Regions from separate parts of the Homo sapiens genome. Here region 1 is linked to region 2. The links come from fine-mapping of genetic effects on gene expression. Tissue or cell type: whole blood. Region 2 holds a variant in brackets; the other region holds the start of a gene. Each region is shown on its reference strand, or each on the opposite one.

The links. PIP is the estimated chance that this variant, and not a neighbour inherited with it, causes the effect.
Region 1: it holds the start of ALAS2, and the variant in region 2 is fine-mapped to the expression of ALAS2 in whole blood (TOPMed, PIP above 0.99).

The regions. Positions count from the first base shown.
Region 1 is chrX:55,029,732-55,032,640 of GRCh38, reverse strand. ALAS2 (5'-aminolevulinate synthase 2) reads left to right here and starts at 1,664. Exons shown (of 11, transcript NM_000032.5): 1 at 1,664-1,699. It also overlaps a transcript of PAGE2B not described here. RefSeq lists an enhancer at 1,659-2,909.
Region 2 is chr22:37,065,334-37,068,242 of GRCh38, reverse strand. It overlaps TMPRSS6 (transmembrane serine protease 6), which reads left to right. Exons shown (of 18, transcript NM_001374504.1): 17 at 1,281-1,417; 18 at 2,005-2,807. The coding sequence ends at 2,163. Among named protein-coding and RNA genes, the nearest start is that of KCTD17, 15 kb to the right of the region's middle. The variant T/C (reference allele first, on the strand shown) is at 1,347.

The sequences.
Region 1 (2,909 bases), not on the chromosome of region 2:
CTCACAATAATCCAATAGGGTAGGTTCTATGACTGTCCCATTTTATATATGAGAGATCTGGAGATAAGTGAACCAAATAGCTAAGGTGTTGGTGACTTGGTGACTTGGGTGAGTCTGACTCCAGAGTGCATGCTTTTAGTCCACTATATTTTACTGCCAACCCACCCCCAAAATGGGCAAAAAGTAGACCACTCAGAAGAGAAATAGACAACTGATAAAGAAACATGAAAAGACACCCAATCTCATTAATAATGAAAGAAAAGCAAATCAAAGCAACACTGATATACCATTTTTAGTGCCTATAAGATTAACAAATATTTTAAAAATTGAAAATAACAAATGGTATTGGTGAGTTTGTGAGAAAATAGATACACATTTACTCTTATACACCACTGGGTGGGGAGGGGTGTATAACACATGTATAGGACAAATTGGCAGTATCAAAAACTTTAAATGTCTATTACCTTTAGATCCAGGAATGCTTATATTTTAGGATGCCACCCTCTAAAAAAATGCTCTCACAAATGCCAAAAGATGTTCATTGCAACATTAATCATAATGGAGGGGGGAAAATCCTTGGGAATAACCTAAATTTATATCAATAAGGGAGTGTTTAAATAAATTACAGTGCATTCAGATTTTGTAACCTCCATGGTATATTGGCATATGGTTGAATGAAAAACAAACAAAAAAAAGAAATTGCAAATCAATATGTAGACTATGGTCTTATTTATGTAAATATAATATTAATGATGACAATCTGCTCTAAAGATGAAATTGTCTGGTTATAACATGGTCCTGCTGCCTTAGGATTGATAAGGGAAGGGGAAAAAGAGAGTGACAAAAGGGGAAGAAAATGAAAAAGGGAGGAGAAGGTAATAGAAAAGATAAGACAGAGAACTTCACATTTTTAATTGTATATTATGAGAGGAAGAGAAGAGTGTGGGTTCTGTAACTACATTGCCTAGGTTCATAGGCGGGCTCTGTACTTTCTAGTTGGGTAATTATCAACAAGTTACCTCACCTCTCTGAGCCTCAGTTTCTTCATCTGTAACATAGGGATAATAGTACCTATCTTTTAAGGTCCTTATGTGGCTAAATTAATTCATGTAAAGCACTTAGTGAAGGGTCTGGTGCATTGTAAGCACTCAGTCAACAGTAGGTGTTATTTATTTGGGCCAGGCACTGTGGTATGCGTTTTCCATACATGATATTACCAAATTGTTACAACAACCGGGGATCTAGTCTGTGGAAGCTGACTGTTTGAGCTCATAAGCACAACACTGTATTCTAGGTCTGACTCCAGAGCCCTCCCAACTTGTGCCACAGTCACTTCTGGGTTTTATTGCCCTCCTTTTATAGTTGAGGAGATCTATAGTCAGAGAGGTGGTTTTGCTCAAGGTATCCCAGCTCTATGTGGATGGTCTGATTCCAAAGCCCAAATGAGCTAATTTTACTGTCCTATAGAGAGAAGAAAATAGGGAAGAGCCAGAGCTGGGGGAGGGGGTACACTAGAGGGAGGGGCTACTTTGGGTTTTATCTCTAGCAAGGAAGGGACTGAGATACCTTTGGGGCCAATGCAGGGCCAGGCCGGCAGAAGGCAGGGTGGGTGGGGCTGAGTCAGAGGAGAAGGGATAAATGCCAGGTCCTAACCCAAGTACCCACCTGTCATTCGTTCGTCCTCAGTGCAGGGCAACAGGTAAGAGCTGCTTTCAGCCTGGCACCCTATCTCTGGTCTGCCAGCTGGTCTCTCAGGGCTGTACACACTGACTCTCTGGTCTGAGTAGATCTGACTTTTTCCTTTGTTTGTTTCTTAGAATCTGTCTCTTTTTCATTTTCTTTTTATCTCCCATGTCTCTTTCTGTCTTTCCTCATTTTCAGCTTTTTTCTCTCTTTTTCCCTTCGTTACTTTCTTTTGTTAGTTTTCAAGATCATTCATTTCATTTCATCATTCTCTGACACTCTTGCTTTCTCTTATTTTTCCCTCTGAATTCTAACTATCTTTTTCTCTAAATTTCTTTCTCTCCCCCTTTTTGTCTCTTTCCTCGGCTTTGTATCTCTCCGTCTCTGTGTTTCTGTCTCTCTCTTCCTCTCTATCAAGAACGATGGCTTAATATTTCTTCCTGCAATTCCCCATTCCTCTCTCCCTTTGACTCCCTCTACCTGCTGGGCTGACAGCAGAGCTCAGTGGGTCAGAGCCCATGGGGAGCCTAGGGGTGGGGGAAGAGCTAGGGAGGGAAACTAAGAGGATGTGGGGGTGATGGGAATGATGAATTGGGTAAGGAGAGATTTGGGGAATTGAGAGATGAATAATTAGCAGAAATAAGTGAAGAAAGTGGAAGAGGAATGTAGTGTCACTATACAGAAAGTAAACAGATTTCTATTCTCATCCTAATTCACTGTGAGACCCTAGGCAAGTCATTCACTCTCTGAAAAAAAGGCTTGGCCTGTAATTTCCACCACCCTTTCTAGTTTTGATTTTGTGATCTTCTAAATTTTCCTGTTTCTAAGAATTTCTGATTCTCTGATTACAGTTATCTAAAGTTCTGTATGATTCTTTCATGGTGGGAAAGGGGTACTAGGAAGAGAAGTAAGGCCTGATGTTTCCAACTCCTGAAGAGAAATTACCACTTCCCTTCCAGACCTAATTGACTTTTGCAAAGCAGGCCACAAAAGGGGTGGGGGGGTGGGGGACAAGGAATGCTGCAATGAGTGTTTTCTGGCTGTCTGCTGGGGTAGAGTTGCAGTTGGCCCTTTTCACCTCTGGGAGTACAGATTGGGTGCTGACACAAGAGAGGATTTTAAAGTCGTAGGGAAAAACTTTCAGTAATGATCTGTTACTTGGTCTCAAATTTCACCATCATCTCTTTGGTTAAAAGTATTGTTTTAAGAAGATGCCTGGCAAGCAT
Region 2 (2,909 bases):
CTCATTCAGTCACTCAATGACACTTTCTGAGCACCAAGTACGTACCAGGCGTGGGGTTAGGGGAAGGGTACATAAGGATGAAGAGAGAACATTCTCGGGGGAGACAGACAGTGGTAAGAGCTGACATGGATGGGGAGATGCAGGAACAGTGGAGACACAGAGGAGGCTCCTGCCCAGCTAGGGTCAGGGGAGGCTTCCAGGGGAGGGTTGTTTAAGCTGAGGCCTGGAAGATGAGTTGGCAACATTCAGACAAAGGGGAAAGACATTCAGGTGAAGACACAGGTGCCAAGACAGGAAGATGTGAGAACATCCGCAGCCTGCCAGAGGGGCTGAGGTGGGGGGCAGGCGTGCCTGGGCGAGGAGCAACCAGAATGGCAGACAGGGCCTTGGGCGAGGAGCAACCAGAATGGCAGACAGGGCCTTGCCGGCCAGCATAAGGATCTTAGGCCAGGAGTTCTCCCTCCTACCTGCACCTTAGAACCATACGGGGAGTTTCAAGAAAAACTGCGTATCAAGGCTCCCCGGGGGACTGTGATATGCAGCCCTCGTGGAGAAGCGCTAGGGCAGACTGCAGAGTTGGGGCACTGCAGAGTTCTAAGGAAACCATGAAGGGATCAGATGTGGGCTTCGGAGACATCTGCAGGTGCTGTAACAGAGCAGCGAGGAGCCAGCCAGAGCCCAGAGGTGCCTCAGCAGACAGAGGTGGGGGACAAGAAGCTGGAGGAAGACACTCATCCACACGGGCTTTTTTCTTTTTTCTTTTTTTTGTTTTTTTGAGACAGAGTTTCGCTCTTGTTGCCCAGGCTGGAGTGCAATGGCGCGATCTCGGCTCGGATCCCCCTCCTCCCGGGTTCAAGCGGTTCTCCTGCCTCAGCCTCCTGAGTAACTGGGATTACAGGCATGTGCCACCACACCCAGCTAATTTTGTATTTTTAGTACAGACAGGGTTTCTCCATGTTGGTCAAGCTGGTCTCAAACTCTTGACCTCAGGTGTTCCGTCCGCCTCAGCCTCCCAAAGTGCTGGGATTACAGGCATGAGCCACCGTGCCCGGCCCTCCACATGGGCTTTGGTCGGGGGCTGTCACCATGAACCCCACAGAGAAAGAGCTAGAATAAAGTGACAGGGAGGCAGAGGGGCAGGTGCGACCCTAGCAGGGGTAAGGGTGGGCAGAGCAGGAGAGAAGTAGGCTCCTGAGATGCAAAGGGAATAATGTTAGGGAGAATAGAGAACAGGGGCTCCAGGCTCCTGAGATCTCACTTCTGCCCTTGACCACGGACAGGCCCCATCAGCAACGCTCTGCAGAAAGTGGATGTGCAGTTGATCCCACAGGACCTGTGCAGCGAGG[T/C]CTATCGCTACCAGGTGACGCCACGCATGCTGTGTGCCGGCTACCGCAAGGGCAAGAAGGATGCCTGTCAGGTGAGTCCCCCGGGCATGGGAGGGAGAGAGGAGGGAGAAAGGATGCTGCCCACATCACCAGGGTCTGGCCCTTTGCTCACATCAGCCTGCTGAAGCCTCCCATCCTCCCAGCAAGGTGGTGATGGCCACCCCTACTTTACAGAAGAGGAGACTGGGGCTTAGAAAGGTTGAGGAGCTTGCCCAAGGTTGCAGAGCCACAGATCAGAAGAGATGCTGTGATGGGCAGGTGTTAGGCTCAAACCCAGTTCTGCTCCTTGCCCACCACAAGGCACTAGGCCCAGGGTCCCACAGTGAGGTGGATGCATGGAAGAAGAAAGGGGTGTCAGCCACAGAAGGGAGGCGGAGGCAGAGTGGGGGCGTGGGGACACAGCCACAGTTCCAGGAGGTCCCAGGCTGGCTGGAGGCCGGGGAGGGCTGGCTTGGGCTCTCTCCATTTAGCAGGCGAGGGGAAAGCAGAGCTTTAAGACTGAACGTGACTCTGGCACCCAGTCAATTCCCAACAGTCAGGACTTAATCCCTATGGCTCTTCACCTGGAAAAGGGGGTGCCCTTACCCTGCTTCAGTCCTTTCTCCTTTCCCCCTTTCAGGGTGACTCAGGTGGTCCGCTGGTGTGCAAGGCACTCAGTGGCCGCTGGTTCCTGGCGGGGCTGGTCAGCTGGGGCCTGGGCTGTGGCCGGCCTAACTACTTCGGCGTCTACACCCGCATCACAGGTGTGATCAGCTGGATCCAGCAAGTGGTGACCTGAGGAACTGCCCCCCTGCAAAGCAGGGCCCACCTCCTGGACTCAGAGAGCCCAGGGCAACTGCCAAGCAGGGGGACAAGTATTCTGGCGGGGGGTGGGGGAGAGAGCAGGCCCTGTGGTGGCAGGAGGTGGCATCTTGTCTCGTCCCTGATGTCTGCTCCAGTGATGGCAGGAGGATGGAGAAGTGCCAGCAGCTGGGGGTCAAGACGTCCCCTGAGGACCCAGGCCCACACCCAGCCCTTCTGCCTCCCAATTCTCTCTCCTCCGTCCCCTTCCTCCACTGCTGCCTAATGCAAGGCAGTGGCTCAGCAGCAAGAATGCTGGTTCTACATCCCGAGGAGTGTCTGAGGTGCGCCCCACTCTGTACAGAGGCTGTTTGGGCAGCCTTGCCTCCAGAGAGCAGATTCCAGCTTCGGAAGCCCCTGGTCTAACTTGGGATCTGGGAATGGAAGGTGCTCCCATCGGAGGGGACCCTCAGAGCCCTGGAGACTGCCAGGTGGGCCTGCTGCCACTGTAAGCCAAAAGGTGGGGAAGTCCTGACTCCAGGGTCCTTGCCCCACCCCTGCCTGCCACCTGGGCCCTCACAGCCCAGACCCTCACTGGGAGGTGAGCTCAGCTGCCCTTTGGAATAAAGCTGCCTGATCCAAGCCCCGCTGCTGGAGTTTGAATGGGACCCAGGCACCAGCCTCATGCCCTTGACTGGAGCAGCCCCTGCTTCCTGCTCAGCCTGTTTGACAAGTGTCCAGAAG